Linked DNA regions of Homo sapiens: region 2 is linked to region 1. A link means that fine-mapping ties the variant in region 1 to the expression of a gene that starts in the linked region. Tissue or cell type: skeletal muscle. Region 1 holds a variant in brackets; the other region holds the start of a gene. All regions are shown on one strand. Distances are from middle to middle.

Region 1 (10,647 bases):
TGCACATAAAAAGATGCTCAAATTCTCTAGTAGTCTAGTAGATTAGTGCAAAAAGAATGATGACAACATACCATATTTTACTCATTTGAAAGCTGATACTATCCTGTTTCAGTAAATGTATGGGTGAATGGTCTCTGCCTGTTGGTAGGAATCTAAAGGTATAGTTGTTTCTGTTTTTTTTTTTTTCCTTAGTTGCTCCAGAGCTAACTCCTCGGCAGTGCACCCAGAGTGAGTCTAAAAGTACAGTCTTCTGGGATGACAATTTGTCACCATCTAACAAAATGTCCCATGTCTTCGTACAGCAATTGTTCTTTGACTTAACAGAAATATTGACACATGCAGAAGAATACAAGTGCAGGAATATACCACATAACATGGTTTGCAATGGCTAATAATTAGAAACAATTTATAGAGAAATGGATAAATTACAGTTTATTTATAGTAAGGAAAACTATGTTTAAAAGATCTGACAGGGAAAGACCCTTAAGATATATTGTTTAAAAAAATAAGCAATGTGCACCCGGGATAATCCTAATGAACCCAAAGTAATCACAAGTGTACTTACAAGAAGGAGGCAGTGGAGTTAGGGTCAGAGAGAAGATGTAAGGATGGGCACAGAGGTCAGAGAGAGGCGAAGATGCTTTGAAGATTGAGGAAGGGGCCTTGAGTAAAGAAATGCAAAAGCCAGGAAAGGCAAGGAGACAAAATCTTCCCTGGAGCCTATACCTCTTTTGTTGTTGTTGATTTTCAAACAATTACGAACATACTGAAATTTTCAAGAATAGTAGGACTTTTTTTCCCTGAACCATGTGAGAGTAATGCTGACACAAAGCCCCATCATTCTGAATTCTTTAGTTTGTAATTCCTACAAACAAGGAGATTCTCCTACACAAGCAAACATACCACCAGCAAAATCAGGAAATTAACAATGAAATCTTCCTACCACCTACTCTACAGATTCCACCCCAGTTTCTCCAATTGCACCAGTCGTATCCTTTATAGTCAAAGGATCCAGGACAGGGTCTCCCGCTGCTTTCACTGGTCATGTCTCTACTCACTTTCAATCTAGAGGCTGTCTTCTCGCTGCCTTCTATCAGGTGGCAAATGATTCTGATTTGTCCGTTTCTGCTGAGATCAACTTGATTAAGGTGGTATTTGTCAGATTTCTCCACTGTGCATGACTAATGTTTTGGAATCAGTAAGGAAACGTGGGACTATTTAAATATCCCATTTCTTTCTTTGTTTCTTCTTTCTTTTCTTTCCTTTCCCTCCCTCCCCCTCTCTCTCTCTTTCTCTCTCTCTCTCTCTCTTTCTCTCTCTCTCTCTTTCTTTCTGATAGTCTTACTCACTTGCCCAGGCTGGAGTACAGTGGCGTGATCTCAGTTCACTGCAACCTCCACCTTCCAGGTTCAAGCAATCTTCCTTCCTCAGCCTCCCGAGTAGCTGGGATTACAGGTGCCCGCCACCACGCCCGGCTAATTTTTGTATTTTTAGTAGAGACTGGGTTTCGTCATGTTGGCCAGGCTGGTCTGGAACTCCTGACCTCAGGTGAACCGCCCACCTCGGCCTCCCAAAGTGCTAGGATGACAGGCGTGAACCACCGTGCCCAGCCTCAATATTCCATTTCTTATCAAACATTGACTCACTGATTTTAGCTTCCATTGATATTTTTGGATGATTTAATTATTGCCTTATTAATGACCAAACAGTGATTTTTCTAACTGCATCATTTTTTTCTCCATTTACTTGTTGCCACTTGCATTAGTGTCCTATTGTGTGTCATACTGTATTAGTGCTGCTATAACAAACTACCATAACCTTAGCGGGTTAAAACAACTTAAATGTATTATTTTGTAACTCTGGAGGCCAGACGTTCCCCATCGGTGTCACTAGGTTAAAATCAAGGCACTGGCAGGCCTGTGTTCCTCTTAAAGGCACCAGGGAAGAAGCCGTTCCCTTGCCTTCTAGCTTCTGGAGGACGCCTGCATTCCTGGGCTATGGCCCCCTCCTCTATCTTCAAGCCATCAGCATAGCACCTTCCCTCCTCTCTGACCTCTGCTTTCATCCGTTTATCCTCTCTCTGATTCTGCTCCTCATGGCTGCTTTGTGTAAGCGCCCTTGTGACCACATTGGGGACCTCCCCCCCATAATCCAGGATTATACACACTCATCTGCATTTAAATCTACATATTATACATAATATAGACACATATTTGTATAATATATTATATCTTTATTTATCTATATAATTTTTTTGAGACATGGTGTCATTCTGTCACCCAGGCTGGAATGCAGTGGCACGATCTTGGCTTACTGCAGCCTCAACCTCCTGGGCTCAAGCGATCCTCCCACCTTAGCCTCCCAAGTAGCTGGAACTACAGGTGTGCACCACCACACCTGGCTAATTCTTAATTTTTTTGTAAAGAAGGGACCTCACTGTGTTGCCCAGGCTGGTCTCAAACTCCTGGCCTTAAGTGATCCTCCGACCTTGGCCTCCCAAAATGTTGGGATTAAAGGCAGGTGTGAGCCACTGCACCCGACCCTTATCTATATATTCAAAACCATGAGTTTGCACCAATGCCTTTAATTCCAATCCAACACCATAAGGTTCAGATTAGTTGTCTTATCATTCACCCTGCAGCTCATTTCCAACAATGAAAAGCCTGACTCCCACCACTTTCAATATGTTTCACTATTGGACTAATCCCTCTTGTGTGTGTTCAGTCTCCCCTCCTGGCCAGACCCCTCCACTCTCCTCACACTACGCGGCCTGCCAGGTGAAAACAATACAGGGACTGCCACTAAGCCCTACTTTTTTTCTTTTATTTTTCTTTCTTTTTTTCCCCTCCCTCCTTCCTCTTTCTTTTCCCTCCCTTCCTCCCTCCCTCCTTTCCTTCCTTTCTTTTCTTTCTCTTTCTTTTTGTTCCTTCCTTCTTCTCTTTTTCTTTCTTTTCCTTCCTTCCTTCCTCTCTCTCTTTCTGTCTCCTTCCTTCCTTCCCTTCCTTCCCTCCCCTTCCCTCCCCTTCCTTCCTTCCTTTCTTCTTTCTTTCTTTCCTTCCTCTTTCTTTTTTTTCAAGGTCAGTCTGGCTCTGTCACCCAGGCTGGAGTACAGAGTGGCCTGATCTTGGCTCAAAGCAGCCTTGACCACCCTAGGCTCAAGCTATCCTCCTGCCTCAGCCTCCTGAGCAGCTGGGACCACAGGGCTGCACTACCACACCGGGATAATTTTTGTGTCTTTTGTAGAGACGGGGTTTCACCATGTTGCCTAGGTTGGTCTCGAACTCCTGAGCTCAAATGATCCACTCACCTTGGCCTCCCAAAGTGCTGGGATTACAGGCATGAGCCACTGGGCCCAGCCTGTTTTTTTCTTAAATACTACTACTTAGAACTAAATGTGAAATCATCCAAATATCATATTATCCTAAATTTGATTAAGATAATTACTGTTGGCTGGAAAAGGTAGTATTACATATGGCTTAATTCCTTTACTGTATAGTCCACAGAGATTGAGACTTTAATCTTCACATTGAGTGGAAAATAAGAGAGAATATGTTCAGATGACAGTAAAATAAAGTCAAATTAGACTTTCAGACAAAATTACATTAAATATATTTTGACATTGAAACAAGTGACCAAGTGCAGTTGAGGAATTTCTTTGACTCATGACATTTACAGTAAGAGTAAATATAGAGGCCGGGCACAGTGGCTCACGCCTGTAATCCCAGCACTTTGGGAGGCAGAGGTGGTTAGATCACAAGATCAGGAGATCCAGACCATCCTGACTAACACGGTGAAACCCCGTCTCTACTAAAAAATACAAAAAATTAGCCCGGCGTGGTGGCGGGCGCCTGTAGTCCCACCTACTCGGGAGGCTGAGGCAGGAGAATCACTTGAACCCGGGAGGCGGAGGTTCCGGTGAGCCGAGATCGCACCACTGCACACCAGCCTGGTGACACAGCGAGGCTCCATCTCAAAAAAAAAAAAAGAAAAAAAAGAAAAAGAAAAACTCAGCTGTTAAACATTTCTTGCTCAAATAACTTCTGTAAAATGCTTAATAGAATAAATAATCGTATCAGTCAGGGTTCTCTGGAGAAACAGAACCAATAAGAGATATATATGTATGTGTGTATGTATACATACACATACAAAGAGACAGCGAGAGAGATTTTAAAGAATTGCTCAAGTAATTGAGGAGGCCGGCAAGTCTGAAATCTCTAGGACAGGCCCACAGGTTGGAAATTCAGGCAGGAGTTGATGTTACCGTCTCGAGTCCGAAATCTGCAAAGCAGGCCAAGCCCTCCGGAAACTCACTCAGAGTTTCTGTGCTGCAGGCTCGAGGCAGAATTCCTTTTTTCTCGGGAAAGGCTCAGTCTCCGCTCTGAAAGCCTTCAGCTGATTGCATGAAGCTCACCCACATTCAAGAGGATAATCTACTTTACTCAGAGTCAGCTGATTGTACGTATCAATCACATCTACACAATACCTTCACAGCAACATCCAAGTTAGTGTTTAACCAAGCAGCTGGGCCCCACAGCCAAGCCAAGTTGAGACATAATGAACCATCACTGTCTCTGTAACTATCTGTTTTCAAAGAAACATTGATTTTCTTTCGCAATCACTTCCAGAAGTTTGACTTAGTATTTCCTACACACTGTTTAACTAACATTGAATTAACTCTTAGTTCCTAATAAAGGTTTGCTAACACATACATACAAATCTTATTAGAAAATTGATTTGCATGTGTTAGAAAACATATTTATTGCATTATTTTGGAACAGTTTTAGTTTTTGCATTATCTCTTCTGTGGTCATATATTGGATTTTCTTTGATGCTTTTCACTGATGACAGCTATTTGGGGGAAAACATAGATGATTTTTACAAAACGCGTCACTGAAAGGGTTTGGGCAGACAACAGTGCGTCTTTTGGTGCAGGCTGGCACTCACACGCAGAGATGCCGCAAGATCAGTCTCCACCCCTCAGACCTCTGCGGAGGGACGCTTGGGTCCGGCTAGTTGGACTAAGACAGCCCCGGACTGCAAGGAAAGGCCTCAAGGCCCCGCCCCCACTCATTTGGGTTCTCTTTTTAAAGGGCAAACCCGAGTGGCCTTGCCAGGGGGAACAAAATGTCTGCTTGGGCATCGGGCAGGCTGGGCTTAGGTGACAGCTGTTCAGGCAGTTCGCTGTCTGGAGAGCCTGTTGCCAGCACCTGTTGACCTTGTGAGAAGTTCCATTTGGGCACAGCCCCTCCTGCAGGGGGAG[G/T]GGGGAGGTTCTGGTCCCATTTAGATTGTTGCCAGGCAACCCATATCTTCAGGGTCAGACTGTCCTGTTTGTCTTTCCACAAAGTATACAGACAACCATAAACAAAGCATAGCTTAAGTAACATTTAGATTGTTGAGGGAACATAAAATAGGGCTTGTTTTTTCCGTCCCCCTCCCTCATCATTGCCCAAAGATGTTACTGATTTGAAATAATTTTTAGATGATCTGCGTGCAAGAAAAAACACAGGGACGGCCAGGCGCGGTGGCTCACGCCTGTAATCCCAGCGCTTTTGGAGGCGGAGGCGGGCGGATCACCTGAAGTCAGGAGTTCAAGACCGGCCTGGCCAACACGGTGAAACGCCGTCTCTACTATAAAATACAAAAATTAGCTGGGCATGGTGGCACGTGCCTGTAGTCCCAGCTACTTGGGAGGCTGAGGCAGGAGAATTTGCTTGAACCTGGGAGGCGGAGGTTGCAGTGAGCCGAGATGGCGCCACTATACTCCAGCCTGGGCAACAGAGTGAGACTCCGTCTCAAAAAAAAAAAAAAAAAAAAAAAACACAACAGGGACAAATATCCCATCAGCTAACGCTGTGATGATGTTGTCACAAATTACGAGTGGCCTCAATGGAGTGTGGTACTTTTACAATTTACTGTTTAAATAATGCAATAAATACAAACTACTTAAGTGGTGTATGTTCAATAATGCCACAGAACTCTCTAACTGTTTAATCATTTAGGGCTACATTTCATTATTTCATCTTTATTATATTTCAATCCATCCTCTATCAACACCATAGCAAACCTTCCCTCTAGACCTGTGTATCCAATAAGGCAGCCACTAGCCACATGTGGTTATGTAAATGAAAATTACAATTTACTAGTTTAAATGAACAGTTAGTTCTTCCGTCACCCTAGCCACATTTCAAGTGGTCAATAGCCACATGTGGCTAGTGGCTACTTTATCAGGGAACACAGCTAAAGGACACTTCCATCATTGCAAAAAGTTACATTGGACAGTGTTGCTGACCTTTGGCAGGAAACAAAGTCTTGAATTGTCTGGTGTCCAGGTTTCATAAAAAGCCTGTTTACACCAGAAATGGGCAGAAAAAAGAAAAGAAAAAGCCTGCTTAGGAGAAGCAATATTTACGGAGGATTGGTGGAAGGATGCCCATCTCTATAATTTATTTGAGTTTTAGCTTGGAATCAAGCAAGCCCATAGCAGTGTTTCTGGATCACAGAGTCTTGGCACTCCAGAAAACTGTTTTCATGGAGCCACATTTTAGGATTTTGTCCAATAACTCATTAAGAAACAACCTTGTGAGTATTGCTGTGCAGAAAGTAAAGAATTAAGCATCATGGGGACCTGTCAAAGGACAGATGTGCTAGCCTGATGTGGCATTTACTGGACAAATCTGAGAGAAATTGAGCAGCAAAATAAGTAATGATAAATGGATTACAGAATTAACCCAGCATGAAAATAGTCTGCACTGGCCGGGCGAGGTGGCTCACGTCTGTAATCCCAGCACTTTGGGAGGCTGAGGTGGGTGGATCACTTGAGGTCAGGAGTTCGAGACCAGCCTGACTAACATAGTGAAACACTGTTTCTACTAAAAATACAAAAAATTAGCCAGGCGTGGTGGCACATGCCTGTAATCCTAGCTTCTTGGGAGGCTGAGGCAGGAGAATCACTTGAACCCAGGAGGCAGAGGTTGCAGTGAGCTGAGATCGCGCCATTGCACTCCAGCTTGGGCAACAAGAGCGAGACTGTCTCAAAAAAAAAAAAAAAAAAAAAAAGAAATAGTCTGTACTGATGTCAATTAATATGTGGAGGAGAATGGGAAGTACCATGGAATGCCAACAAATGAATGCAGAGGGAATAATGGAATTCGAACATCGAACATCACCACTTGTCTATTGTTGTAGACATAATTGTTTTATGGAAGAGTCAGCAAAGAAACTAGCAGGTTGGATAGGAGACAAGAGATTTTTATGACACCAAAGTGTCTCCTTATAAGTATTTATTAATTATAAAGATAAAAAATAGTAACTTTACAGTGGAGAAACGGCAGACGCTACCTTAACCAAGCATTCAAAGGTAACATCACCAGTAATGGGAAAAGTAGATATCTTGTGCCCCCTGATGGGATACACTGAGGACTCACTACTACTTCTGAGATGTCCCTGCCGAAAATACTGAATCTGGATCTAATGAGGAAGAACAGGCAACCCCAGACTCAGAAACACTCTACAAAAGCATCTGGCCTGTGCTGTCCAAAATGTCAAGGGCTTCCAAGACAAAGAAAGATTTAGGAAGTGTTCCAGATTAAAGACCAAAGAGACATGATGACAGGTACAAATTTGAGCCTAGATAAGATCACTGAGCAGAAAAAAGAAACCAAAAAACTCTTTTTTTCTTTTGCCATAAAGGTATTTAAGAAAAATGATAACATCTGAAAAGTCTTGTATATTAGGAAATACTACTGTATTCATGTTAACTTCCTGATTTTGGTCATTGCACTGTGGTTACAGAAAATAACATTCTTGTTTTTAGGAAGTATGCACTGTAGTGTTCAGGAGTAAAGGGGCATAGTGTCTCCAGCTATCTCTCAGATGGTTCAGAAATATGTAATTCCCTCTTACAGTCCAAGATCTCCAGCGGATGTCTGGAACCAATCCATGCGTATACTATATTTTTCCTGTATGGGAACACCTGTGGTAAAAGTCAGTTTAGAAACATGGCACAGTAAGAGATTAGCAACAATAGTTAATAAAAAGAACAATTATAACAATATACTGTCATAAAAGTTATGCGAATGTGGTCTCTCACTCTCTCTCAAAATATTGTCAAACCCCAGTTGACGCAGGCAACTGAATCCACAGAAAGTAAAATTGCCGATAAGGGGGGATTACTGTATATATGTACGTGTATAGAGAGAGATAGAGAGAGAAATACATTGGGAGAGAGGCAGAAAAGGAGAACAGTAAAGTAAATATATGGGAGGCTGGGCACGGTGGCTCACACCTGTAATCCCAGCACTTTGGGAGGCTGAGGCAGGCAGATCACCTAAGGTCAAGAATTCAAGACCAGCCTGGCCAACATGGTGAAACTCCATCTCTACTAAATATACAAAAATTAGCCAGATGTGGTGGCATGTGCCTGTAATCCCAGCTACTCTGGAGGCTGAGGCAGGAGAATCGCTGGAACCCGGGAGGCAGAGGTTGCAGGTGAGCCAAGATTGAGCCACTGCACTCCAGTCTGGGCAACGAGAGTGAAACTCCATTTCAGAAAAATAAAAAAAAGTGAATATATGGGAAAATACAACAAATACAACATTGAGGAATCTAGATGAAGAGTATTAGCAACCTCTTTGTACATTTTTTGCAATTGTTTGTGGTCTGAAATTACTTCAAAAATGAAATGAATAGAAGAAATAATCTTATGAAATCCATTACTATACTTGTGGGAGGCTTAAACCTCTGCATCCCAATTGTGAAACTTCATATGAGCAAATTCTTACAATTAAAACCTATAAAAGCTTTAATTTTTTCCAAAGGTTGTAGAGTTTCTCTTTTTGCCTGTTTAAAGTATGAAACTGTTTCCCTTTTATCCTTGACATTCAGAAAGCTCAGGGCTAAGTAGTATCTGTAGTTTCTAGCTAACTATAGTGACCATGGAGGACCCTATAGAAAACACTCTGTGGGCCGGGCACAGTGGCTCATGCCTGTAATCCCAGCACTTTGGGAGGCCGAGGTGGGTGGATCACCCGAGGTCAGGAGTTCAAGACCAGCCTGGCCAACATGGTGAAACCCTGTTTCTACTGAAAATACAAAATACTGTACATAAAACCCCACCAGGTGGCGACTCATGCTCCTGTCCCCACTTTACAGACGGACAAACTGAAGCACAGAGAAGTTAGGGAGCACACAAGCTCATCAGCTTAGAAAGCCGGAGAGCCAAGGGTGGAACCCACGCAGCCAGCACTGTTAACAAACTGGAACTGTGCGGCCATTCAAAGGTGAGAATTACAGAGGGAGGGAGCTCACTTCATGCTTGCAAGAAGATCTCAGCACAGAGTTGACCGAGGCAACAGTTAAACAGTCTTGAAAATAAATACGCGTCCACATTATATTGTTACAATTTTTTTTTTCTGAGGCAGCATCTTGCTCTGTTGCCCAGGCTCTAGTGTAGTAGTGTGATCTGGGCTCACTGTAGCCTCGACTTCCTCAGGCTCTAGTGATCCTCCCACCTCAGCCTCCTGGGTAGCTGAGATTACAGGCGCCTGCCACCACGCCCACTAAATTTTGTATTTTTAGTAGTAGTTTCGCCATGTTGGCCAGGCTGGTCTCGAACTCCTGGGCTCAAGCCATCCACCCACCTCAGCCTCCCAAAGTGCTGGGATTACAGATGTGCACCACCACCACGCCCGGCCTATTGCAACAATTTTAAAATTAGCATGTGGAAATATAAAATAAAATAATAATTTTTTATTTTATATTTTTCCTGAAATTTTTGTATAAATAATTGAAACGCATTACATTTATTTTTTGGAGTTTATTTATTTTTACAGAGTCTCACTGTCACCCATGCTGGAGTACAGTGGTGCGATCACAGCTCACTGCAACCTCTACCTCCCAGGTTCCAGTGATTCTCCTGCCTCAGCCTCCTGAGTAACTGGGATTACAGGTACACATCACCACGCCCATGTAATTTTTGTATTTTTAGTAGAGATGGGGTTTCACCATGTCGGCCAGGCTGGTCTCCAACTCCACCGTGCCCAGTCTTCCATATATTTACTTTACTGTTCTCCTTCTCTGTCTCTCTCCTAATGTATTTCTCTCTATATATACATGTACATATATATAGTAATCCCCCCTTATCGGCGATTTCACTTTCTGTGGATTTAGTTACCTGCATCCACCCACCTCGGCCTCCCAAAGTGATGGGATTACAGGTGTGAGCCACTGCGCCCGGCCCCCATTATATTTATTGATAATGCTCTCACATATGATACCAAAGAACTGGGTCAGGGAAGGGAGGACTTCCAGGCTAGAGAAATATTGTTAGGGAGTCACAGACGAGGCAAAGGTATGTGGGTGTATATGGGTGTGTGTGTGACTGAGGGTGAGTGTGAGTAAGTGTGAGTGAATGTGGGTGACTATGAGTCGCCCTAGGACAGGAGGGTGTTCTGGCCAGGGCGGGTCCCACCTGGTGCCCTAGGCTGCTGTGAAGGACTGTGTGGCCACTCCCGACCCTGAGCTGGAATAAGCAGGTAAGTCTTTGTCTGACTTGTTTTGATTAATCCAAGATGTTAAAGGAGTAGGAGAGCTGGCTGTTTCTCTCCATTACTGTTGTGTAGGGGAAAAAAAGACCAATATAGATATAGG
Region 2 (10,195 bases), 39 kb after region 1:
GTGGGGCAACACTACAAAACTGTATGAATACCTTGTTTCTCAACAACCTTTCACCCAAAGGTTTTAGCCTTCATTAACAGTCCTTAACTGTAACTGAATCAATTATCATACTGGTGGTTGCAAAATGGTGATCTTCTAGTAAAACGGTGGAATGATACATGAATCAACATCTCATCCTTACACAGGGCTATGCTAATCTCCTCTGTATTGTTATTAAAATAAATGTAGGGATCTACTGATAGACCTGGATAAGGATTATCTGCATAATAGATGTCATTGGTTTATGTTTAAATATAGATGATAAAAAGTGATAAAAGTTACCTGCTTGATGCAATCACTACGTCCTTACTCATGGCGCATTTAGGAATAAATTATCACATGCCTCACACTGTGCTGGGTACCGAAGATACAAAGATAGAGACAAGGCTATTCCTGTCTTCAGACAGATATTTATATAACTTACAAAACTGCAATATGAATAATAGTTCAAAAGTAACAAAACAAAGTATGAAGAAATGGGGAACGGCTAATTCTGATTCAAAGTCAGAGCAGAGACAGGAGACATGGCCCAAATATTAATGTATCACAGAGAAGGCCTGAGTTAGGCCTTAAAGGAGAGGCAGGGGAATAATGGACCTGAGGTGAGAGAAAGATCAAACAATGTGTGCAAAAGCATAGTACTAGAAAAAAATACACGGGGGGAAATGTCACAACCCATTATGTCTAAGGCATGTGAGTGGAGGGGAAAGTTTGGAGACAGAAACAAACAGAAGGATTTGGAGTGTCAAGTGAAAAAATTTCGTCCTCATTTTATAGGCAAGAGGAACCCAGAGAAAAACATTTTTAAAGAAGAGAATGGGATGACAACTTAAATGCTTCAGAGTGCCAACTAGTACTGTTGGAGGACTCATGGTGGAGTATAAGGGGGAAGCTAAAGAAAGTATTAAACCGGGGAAGTCAACTAGGAGGCTACCAGACTATTCCGTGCAAGAACTGAGGGGTGTGACTCAGGCCACAGGAAGAACTTTACCCCTGGCCCTTTGACTATCAACACACTGTCTCCTAATCTCATGTATCATTCTTCTTAAATCCATCCTATGGGTCACGTCAGTGTCCATCTTATAGTACATATAAATGTCCTAGGGCATTCTGCACAACATGCTCTAAATCACTGCCATTGTGAATGAGATATTTAGGAGAGTATAGGGAAATTCTCGACCTCCCATTTGCTAAGGAGAGAGTAGCAACTGGATTCAAACCGAAGGGCCTAGGACTTAGCTCCACTGTTAACTTTGGACATTTGAGGTCCATGGTTATTACATACTTGGAGATGGTGTAAGGACTGTTAAGCTTGAAAGGGAATTGAGAACAGAAACTTATTTTCTGTGATGGTCATCCATCGATCATGCATAAGAATCATTTCTAATAGTTTAAACTGTGACAATGTTAATAATAACTGTAAATCTTTTACAAAAAAAACTTCCCCATTCCGCTACTTATAATTATTTGTGTGTTTTTTTTGTTTTTTTTTTTGAGTCCCGCTCTGTCGCCCAGACTGGAGTGCAGTGGCACAATCTCTGCTCACTGGAACCTCCGCCTCCTGGGTTCAAGTGATTCTCCTGCCTCAGCCTCCCAAGTAGCTGGGACTACAGGCATGCACCATCATGCGTGGCTAATTTTTGTATTTTTAGTAGAGACAGGGTTTCACCTTGTTGGCCAGGCTGGTCTAGAACTCCAGACTTGAGGTGATCCGCCTGCCTCGGCCTCTCAAAGTTCTGGGATTAAAGGTGTGAGCCACTGTGCCCCGCCTACTTATAATCATTTGAATAAAAGGTTTATATGACTTATTTACAAAATAAAATACTGTTACTATTTTTTTTTTGAGACAGAGTCTCGCTCTGTCGCAGTGGCTTGATCTCGGCTCACTGCAAGCTCTGCCTCCCGGGTTCACGCCATTCTCCTGCCTCAGCCTCCCGAGTAGCTGGGACTACAGGCGCCCGCCACCATGCCCGGCTAATTTTTTGTATTTTTAGTAGAGACAGTGGGGTTTCACCATGTTGGCCAGGATGGTCTCGATCTCCTGACCTCGTGATCCGCCCACCTTGGCCTCCCAAAGTGCTGGGATTACAGGTGAGAGCCACCGCGCCCAGCCCTACTGTTACTATTTTATGTTAAAGATAAGATTAAATAATTTTTAAGGTTTTTTCCATTTCTAGTATCTTATGATTCTGGTACAATAAAAACAAGTTTATCTTGGTTTTTTAAGCTTCTGAATTAAGTTTTCAAACGTTAAAAATGACTGATGTTAGGGTGATGTTTCCATTTAAATGCTACAGAAAATACAGACATAATAAATTTAAACAAGTTTAAAAAACAAAATAAGCATTTTTAGCCACTTTCAGTCTTTTCTAGAAAAGTTCTAAGTGCTCTTATTCATGCCATGTCTTACCCTATATTGAAAAGAAACTGGACTTAATTCCCGGAAACTTTCATCTCCTTCATAAATAGAGCGTAATGCTTCTAGTTCCATCTGAAATAAAGAACTGAATGAGTTTTGTTTAGTGGTATAAATGAATTAGAAATAGAGGGTCTTTACTTTCTCATTCAAGCCCACTCAACTATGTAAAAGCTTGACTAACTTATATAACCTTAGATACTTACCACATAGGTGCATGCAGCAACACATGACAATATTACTACCAATGATACTTACTTTCAAACTCTGTGTCAGGGACTACTAAGCACTGTACAATGTATGATCGCGCTGACTTCTCAAATCAACCCTGTCAAGAGGCTCCTATTATTTTCTCCTTCCTAGGGAAGCAAGGAAGTCTCCCTGTAAAGCCACTCCAGAGCAAGCGCTCTTAGAACTTGGCTAAAGACGAACCTGGGTGCAAAGAGCATTAAACCTAAAGATAAGAACTATGAAAAACAATACTTTCCCATTATTTACATACATTTCTTTTATATGTAATCCTTCCCACAGTGATACAAAGCTCTAAAAAACACCTAAGGGCAAGAAAAAGAACTTAAGAAAAAGGCTGACAAGTATCTACCCAAGATGAGACAGGACTGTCAGAGAAAATGTAACTAGTAATCCTTGCTTGGACATAGTTCTTAGAACATTTTGGTATTACAACTGAGAAGTTCATCACTGTGATCACCGATGAATACCTGAGAAAAGAAGTAAAGCAAGACTGCACTTGGGTACACGTTTAAGTTTTTCAAAAAGATGCATGTCATGAATTCTACAAACTAAAGATGGTGAAAGTGGGCTTGATCTACAGTCAAAATTTTAGAATAGAAATTATTGGCTGGGCGCGGTGGCTCACATCTGTAATCCCAGCACTTTGGGAGGCCGAGGCGGGCGGATCACCTGAGGTCAGGAGTTCGAGGTCAGCCTGGCCAACACGGTGAAACCCCATCTCTACTAAAGACACAAAAATTAGCCAGGTGTGGTGATGGGCGCCTGTAGTCCCAGCTACTCAGGAGGCTGAGGCAAGAGAATCGCTTGAACCCAGGAGGCGGAGGTTGCAGTGAGCCGAGATCGGGCCACTGCAATCCAGCCTGGGCTACAGAGCGAGGCTCCGTCTCAAAAATAGCAACAACAACAGCAAAAAGACATTGTTGAAGAAACAGTGTGTGAGGAACTGGGACATTAAGGAGTAGACCCTAAGACCTAGTAAGTATATGAAAAACAAGATATACCCTTCTTAGATAGGGAAACTTGATTGGCACAATGAAGAAAGGCATAAAACACCGACTATATAGATTTCAGCCAGGCTCCACAGGTTTCTCTTGCTACCTTTACAGAAAAAACAAAAAAAAACAAAATACAGAAATTCAAGCCGGATTCAAGAATAACTAAGATTAGATTGGAACAAAAACCTTACTCAAGATATAGTACTACTCCTTCTGTCCCTAATCCTTTCCCATATTTTAATTTATGACTTGGACAGGTACAAAAATAGGAGGCAAGTTTATTAAATTTGTGGATGACAATTTGTTGGGACAGTGAATAATGCTGATGGCTGAATAAGAATCCAAAAAGTCTTTGAAAAGCAAGCTAATGATGAAATTTAGCAGGGTAAGTAGAACTTGTATCAATACTCAGATACCTAAATGTAGAAGTTGAAGATGAAAGACAAATTGCTTTGTATAAAGCACTTAAAAGATTTCAGTTGACAGTAAATTTAACTAGACAAAACAGCAAGATGCCACAATTTTGAAACAGGACATTTAAAAAATTAAAATCTGTCCACAAACACGTGATTCCAGGATAGTGAAGAGATTAACAAAGAATGGATATATGAAGACAAGCTAAAAGGAACCACTTCCTCAGAGAAGGTCTGAGAAACTGGGCAGGAAACTATCTTCAAAGATCAGAACATCGGTCATCTGAAAGAAGAATGAAATTTTCTTGTTAAACTGGAGATTCCTGGGCCCACCACAGAAATTCTGATTCAGTAGGTCTGGGGTGGAGTGCACGCATCTGTTTTCTAGCAACCATCTAAATGGTTCTAAGGTAGGGGACTATGGTCCAACTCTGAGAAACATTACACTGTATGTTCTTTGCTTTGCAGGGAGAAGAAGCTATTAACGCATTCACTTAGAAATTCACCCGGCAAGAATATTTTAGAAGAGATTCAGATATCAACTAGCTAGCTTGTTGGACTTTGGGTCCTTTAAAGGTTAACTTCCAATCCAGAGATTCTATTACATTTATCATGTAAAAGTAGTAAGTTTCAAGCATTATACTTTAAATTAACAGTGAACTTATCTACCACCCAATAAGACCTGGTTTCTAGTCCCGATTCTACCACGTACTTACTGTGCAGCCCTGCGGCTATCATCGACCCACCTATCAAAGTTAGAAGGTTCCCCTACAGATGGCCCGTAGCACCCACCCCCCAACTCTAATATTATATGATTCAATGTCAAAATGGCATCTCACAAGGAAATATTTGAGCATAAACCATAAATTCAGGTGGTACATGAATGCTCAAAACAGACAGATGGGTAAAAGATTTCCCCAAACAATATGGACAGAAACTCAGATGCACCACCAGTGTCATTTTCTTCCATGAGAAATGTAACTAACTCAATTAGCCCTCTACTAGCCAAGAGATTTAAAGATGACCAGACTAAAATTTAAAGGTGATCAGCCTAACTCAGTAAACAGGCACTGAACACATGGGATTCAAGGAGAGCCAAGAGCACTGGATCGTGCACCAAGGACGCTCATCCCTGTTATTAAGTAACCAGGGGAGACTCCCGGATTTGCAAAAATGAAAAATGAGGGGGGAAGAGTGGCAGAGGCGGACTCCTGGCCATTCACGCGCGCTTGGGTGGGACGCCGGTGAACTCGGGGCACCCCGGCCGGCTCCGAGGGCACAGGGCACGTGCCGGGCAGGCTGTCCGGGCACCAGGTCTCACGGGGGCCCGGGGCTGCGCGCCGCGCCCGCGCTGGGAGAGGGCCCTGAGCCGGGGGGCTCACCTCCTGGTCCTCGTTGGCACTCATCGCGCCGGTCGCGGGGCGCCTCCTGAGCGGACGGCGTTCGCAACAACGAAGAGAAAGCGAAGGCAGCGGCCCAGAGGCCGGGCGTCCCCCTTTCGCGCCTCGGCTGTGGGGGCGGCACAGTCTTGGCACTGGCAGACGCCAACTGCGCGCGCCCCGAGCCTCGGCAGCGCCCAGCCGCCGGCAGTGGGCTGTGGGCTACGAGCCGGAGCCGCGGCTGGTGGGGCCTGGGAAGTGCAGCGTCTCCCTGACGCTTGGAGGAGCGGCGTAAAGTTCCGGGACAGCGATTGGTGTAGAGCGCGGTCACTCAGGCCCAGAAAGTGCTTCCTGTGCCGGGGGAGGTGGGTACAGGGAAGTCTCGCCTGTTGGAACTGGCTGTGGGGCTGCGGCGGTGGGGACGGGCCACGGCGTTCTGTGACATCCCCCCGCCTCCCCTCGTCTTCTCCCGGCTGGCGGCGACCGGCCTCAGCTGCAGCGGGCCCGGGGCGTGGGGCCTGGGTGAGTCCGGGCCCGGAGACCCGCGGGGCCAGGCGGGACCGCCGAGGAAGAGAGCTAGCTCTTAACAATGCTGGTTTGGGGGCCTGCGTTTTGCAATCCCATCGACGGGTGCAATCCTGGCACTTCTCTTTTAGACCCGAGGAAAGACGCACCCGTTTCTAGGGCCTCCCAGGTTTAAGACGGGGGAATAAGAGGAGGAAGATATCTGCCTTTAGGGACTGCAAGGTTATTTCTCTACCTTTCCTCACTGGAGCTACCAGAACAGATACTGGGACCATGGGGACGGTGTTTCTCCTACGTTGGATTGTTGCTTCTCATCTTTAACATCGAAACATCATTTCGTCCCCACACTGTCGTTCCTCTTTTGTTCGTTTTGTAGTTGAACATCTCTGAATCCCATTCTTAGCAGCCTTGTGTCCTAACACCCTGAACTTCCAGTTAGTTAAAAGAAAAAAAAAGTAACCACATTAGGTTTTGGGGTTTTTTTAGTTGCCAATTTGATTGGGTCACCTTTCTTATCTTTCACGCTAGTTTCCAGTTTACTTCCCTTGCATTACTTGATCTCCCATCCATTATTCACCTTCTATAGCTGCGCCTCCTTTCGTGTATAGTTTCGTTGGTTGCTCCATTGGATATCTGAAAATTTCTCCTTCCAGCCTGTCATTGAAATCCATTCGATCTGCGCCTGTGCGTTATCGGGGTTCTCATTCAAATTCCTTTGCTGCAGAATAAGCACGACCATTTCAGGTGACATAGGAGAATGTGGCAAGACTTTCTGATACAATTTTCGTGCAGCAATTTTGGGACACATTTCCCATAATTTAGATCTCTGCTGTCCAGTTCTGTAGCCAGTAGCTACATCAGGCATTTGAAATAGGCTAGTCTGAATTGAGATGTGCTGTGAGTGTGAAATACACACCAGATTTTGAAGACTCAGTACAAAAAAAGGTAAAATATGTCATTAATAACTTTTATATTATTGTCAGTATGATAATATTTTGGACATACTGTACTGCGTTAAATTGAATATTAAAATGAATTCCATCCACGTTTTACTTTTTAATATGACTGCTAGAAATTTTTAATTTATTTATGTGACTTGTATTTCTATTGGATGACAGTCATTTTTAGTTCCTCTTATTTCAACTCCATATTTAAAGACCACAGCTATGTCTTTTGGGCCTCTGGAGTTATTACAGGAAATGGCCTCTAGTCTAGACTCGTTCATATTAAGCAAAGGGGCCCGTATTGTATTTTGGTCACTTGTTTTTTGTTGTTGTTGTTGAGACGGAGTCTTGCTCTGTTGCCCAGGCTGGAGTGCAGTGGTGCGATCTCGGCTCACTGAAATCTCCGCCTCCCGGGTTCAAGCCATTCTCCTGCCTCAGCCTCCCGAGTAGCTGGGACTATAGGCACGCATCACCATGCCCGGCTAATTTTTGTATTTTTAGTAGAGACGGGGTTTCACCCTATTGGCCAGGCTGGTTTTGAACCGTTGACCTCGTGAATCGCCCGCCTTGGCCTCCCAAAGTGCTGGGATTACAGGCGTGAGCCGCTGTACCCAGCCTGGTCACCCCTTTTTAATTTTCATTCCTACATTACCCAGAACTAGACTGTTTCTTTCTCTGAACATGCAATCCTTTGCCCTCATAACTTAATCCTGTCCTAAAAATATTTAAACAATTCTAAAACAATCTGTTGTAGACATTTCTGGCAAGCTTTGCAAATCATTTATTGAATACCTGTTGTTCTTTCAGTATGTAAACATGAGAAGACTAATAGTCTTTCCTAAATTAACCTTTCAGTTGAAAATATTCCATGTTTTGGGGATTAGGTATTAGCCTAAGTGTGCCTCACTTTTCACAAAGATTGTGTTAGACTTCTCCATAATATACTGGTATACTGGTGTAGATTACCTTTTTTTTTTTTTTTTTTTTTTTTTGAGACGGAGTCTCCTCGCTCTGTCGCCCAGGCTGGAGTGCAGTGGCGCGATCTCCGCTCACTGCAAGCTCCGCCTCCCGGGTTCACGCCATTCTCCTGCCTCAGCCTCCCGAGTAGCTGGGACTACAGGCGCCCACCACCATACTCGGCTAATTTTTTGTGTTTTTAGTAGAGACGGGGTTTCACCATGTTAGCCAGGATGGTCTCGATCTCCTGACCTTGTGATCCGCCCGCCTCGGCCTCCCAAAGTGCTGGGATTACAGGCGTGAGCCACCGCGCCCGGCCAGATTACCTTTTAAAAGAGCCTCATGACACATTCTTTTTCAAATAAGATTATATTTAAAATGTAGTGATAATTTTGTTTGGAATAACTTTTTTTTTTTTTTTTTTTTTTGTGGCACAATCTTGCTCTGTCACCCAGGCTGGAGTGCAGTGGCACAATCATAGTTCACTGTAACTTTAAACACCTAGACTCAAGTGATCCTCCCATCTCAGCCTCCCAAGTGGCTGGGACTACAAGTGAGCACCACCATGCCCGGCTATTTTCTTTTTTATTTCTTTTAGAGACAGGATCTCACTATGTTTCCCAGGCCAGTCTTGAACTCCTGGCCTCAACAATCCTCTGGCCTTGTCCTCCAAAAGTGCTGGGATTATAGGCATGAGCCACTTGTGCCTTACCTGAATTCTCTGTAATATGCTGGTATAGATTATCTTTTAAAAGAACCTCATTTGGGAGGCCAAGGCTGGCAATCGCCTGAGGTCACGAGATCAAGACCATCCTGGCCAACATGGTGAAACCCTGTCCACTAAAATACAAAAAATTAGCTGGGTGTGGTGGTGCATGCCTGTAGTCCCAGCTACTAGGGAGGCTGAGGCAGGGGAATCACTTGAACCCGGGAGGTGGAGGTTGTAGTGAGCTGATATTGGGCCAGTGCACTCCAGCCTGGTGACAGAGTGATACTCCGTCTCAAAAAAAAAAAAAAAAAAGAACCTCATGTTGTTACATCCTTTTGCAAGTAAGATTATATTAAAAATATAATGACAGTCTTGTTCGGGATAAACATAGTTTTATATACTTATAAAGTCAGGGCATACGTTAGATTTATTATGGACTGATTCTTAGCTAAAGGACGCAGTGGAAACATCCTCCGAGAGGTTTCCATTCATTGTTAGTTTTTCCCTTACAGATTTTTCTTTAAAGAGTAAATTTTATATTGTGGGAAATGAGACAACATAGCTACTATTTAGATAATTACATAAATTAAAGGCTATTTTAATAATATCCTAGGTATTCAGAAATTCAATATTAGCAATTACAGAGAAATTAGGGGAAGTTTATTATATGTAAGTCAACTGTTTTTCTTTTATATTTTTCTTTCAATATATTTTTCTTTTATAGTTGAAATAGATCATGTAGATCTATTTTAATTTTATCACCTTCTTGCTTTCTTGGTCTACTAATTTCAAAGTTCTGTGTGCATTTTGAGACATTACTGAAAATGCCGATTTGTCTTAAAGTTGACTTCATTTTTAACATGAAAGATTTTTTCTTAAATGTCATATAGTTATTACATTTTAATAGATCTAATTCAGGAATTAAAGTTTTCCCTTTTTCTCTCTTCTGTTTGTTTGACAGTTTGCAGATACTCAAAGCCTTTTGCCTTTTTGTAATGATTATTTTATTTATTTTATTTTTTTTGAGACAGAGTCTCACTCTGTCACCCAGATTGGAGTGGAGTGCCGTGATCTTGGCTCACTGGAGCCTCCGCCTCCTGGGTTCAAGTGATTCTCCTGCCTCAGCCTCCAAGTAGTTGGGGTTACAGGTGTGTGCCACCATGTCCAGCTAATTTTTTGTTTTTTGTTTTTGAGACAGAGTCTCCCTCTGTCATCCAGGCTAGAGTGCAGTGGCGCCATCTTGGCTCACTGCAACCTCCACCTCCCGGGTTCACGCCATTCTCCTGCCTCAGCCTCCTGAGTAGCTGGGACTACAGGCGCCCACCACCACGCCCGGCTAATTTTTTGGATATTTAGTAGAGACAGGGTTTCACCGTGTTAGCCAGGATGGTCTCGATCTCCTGACCTCGTGATCTGCCCACCTAGGCCTCCCAAAGTGCTGGGATTACAGGCGTGAGTCACCACGACCAACCAATTTTTTGTATTTTTAGTAGAGACAAGGTTTCACTGTGTTGGCTAGGCTGGTCTTTAACTCCTGGCCTCCAGTGATCCACCTGCTTCGGCCTC

Alleles and levels. Alleles are on the strand shown, and positions count from the first base shown. SD is a standard deviation of normalised expression in the study named.
With allele T in place of G in region 1, the expression in skeletal muscle of the gene that starts at base 5,754 in region 2 is lower (small effect, 0.36 SD a copy in GTEx).

Evidence for each region. PIP is the estimated chance that this variant, and not a neighbour inherited with it, causes the effect.
Region 2: RWDD4 starts here. The variant in region 1 is fine-mapped to the expression of RWDD4 in skeletal muscle (GTEx, PIP above 0.99).

What each region holds. Positions count from the first base shown.
Region 1 is chr4:183,614,337-183,624,983 of GRCh38, forward strand. No RefSeq gene overlaps it. Among named protein-coding and RNA genes, the nearest start is that of RWDD4, 40 kb to the right of the region's middle. The variant G/T (reference allele first, on the strand shown) is at 5,261.
Region 2 is chr4:183,653,432-183,663,626 of GRCh38, forward strand. RWDD4 (RWD domain containing 4) reads right to left here and starts at 5,754. Exons shown (of 8, transcript NM_152682.4): 1 at 5,498-5,754; 2 at 2,450-2,530. The coding sequence starts at 5,521. It overlaps TRAPPC11 (trafficking protein particle complex subunit 11), which reads left to right and starts at 5,862. Exons shown (of 30, transcript NM_021942.6): 1 at 5,862-6,016. It also overlaps the pseudogene RNU6-479P. RefSeq lists enhancers at 4,961-5,749, 5,664-5,793, 5,750-6,537 and silencers at 5,269-5,489, 5,304-5,513, 5,884-6,173.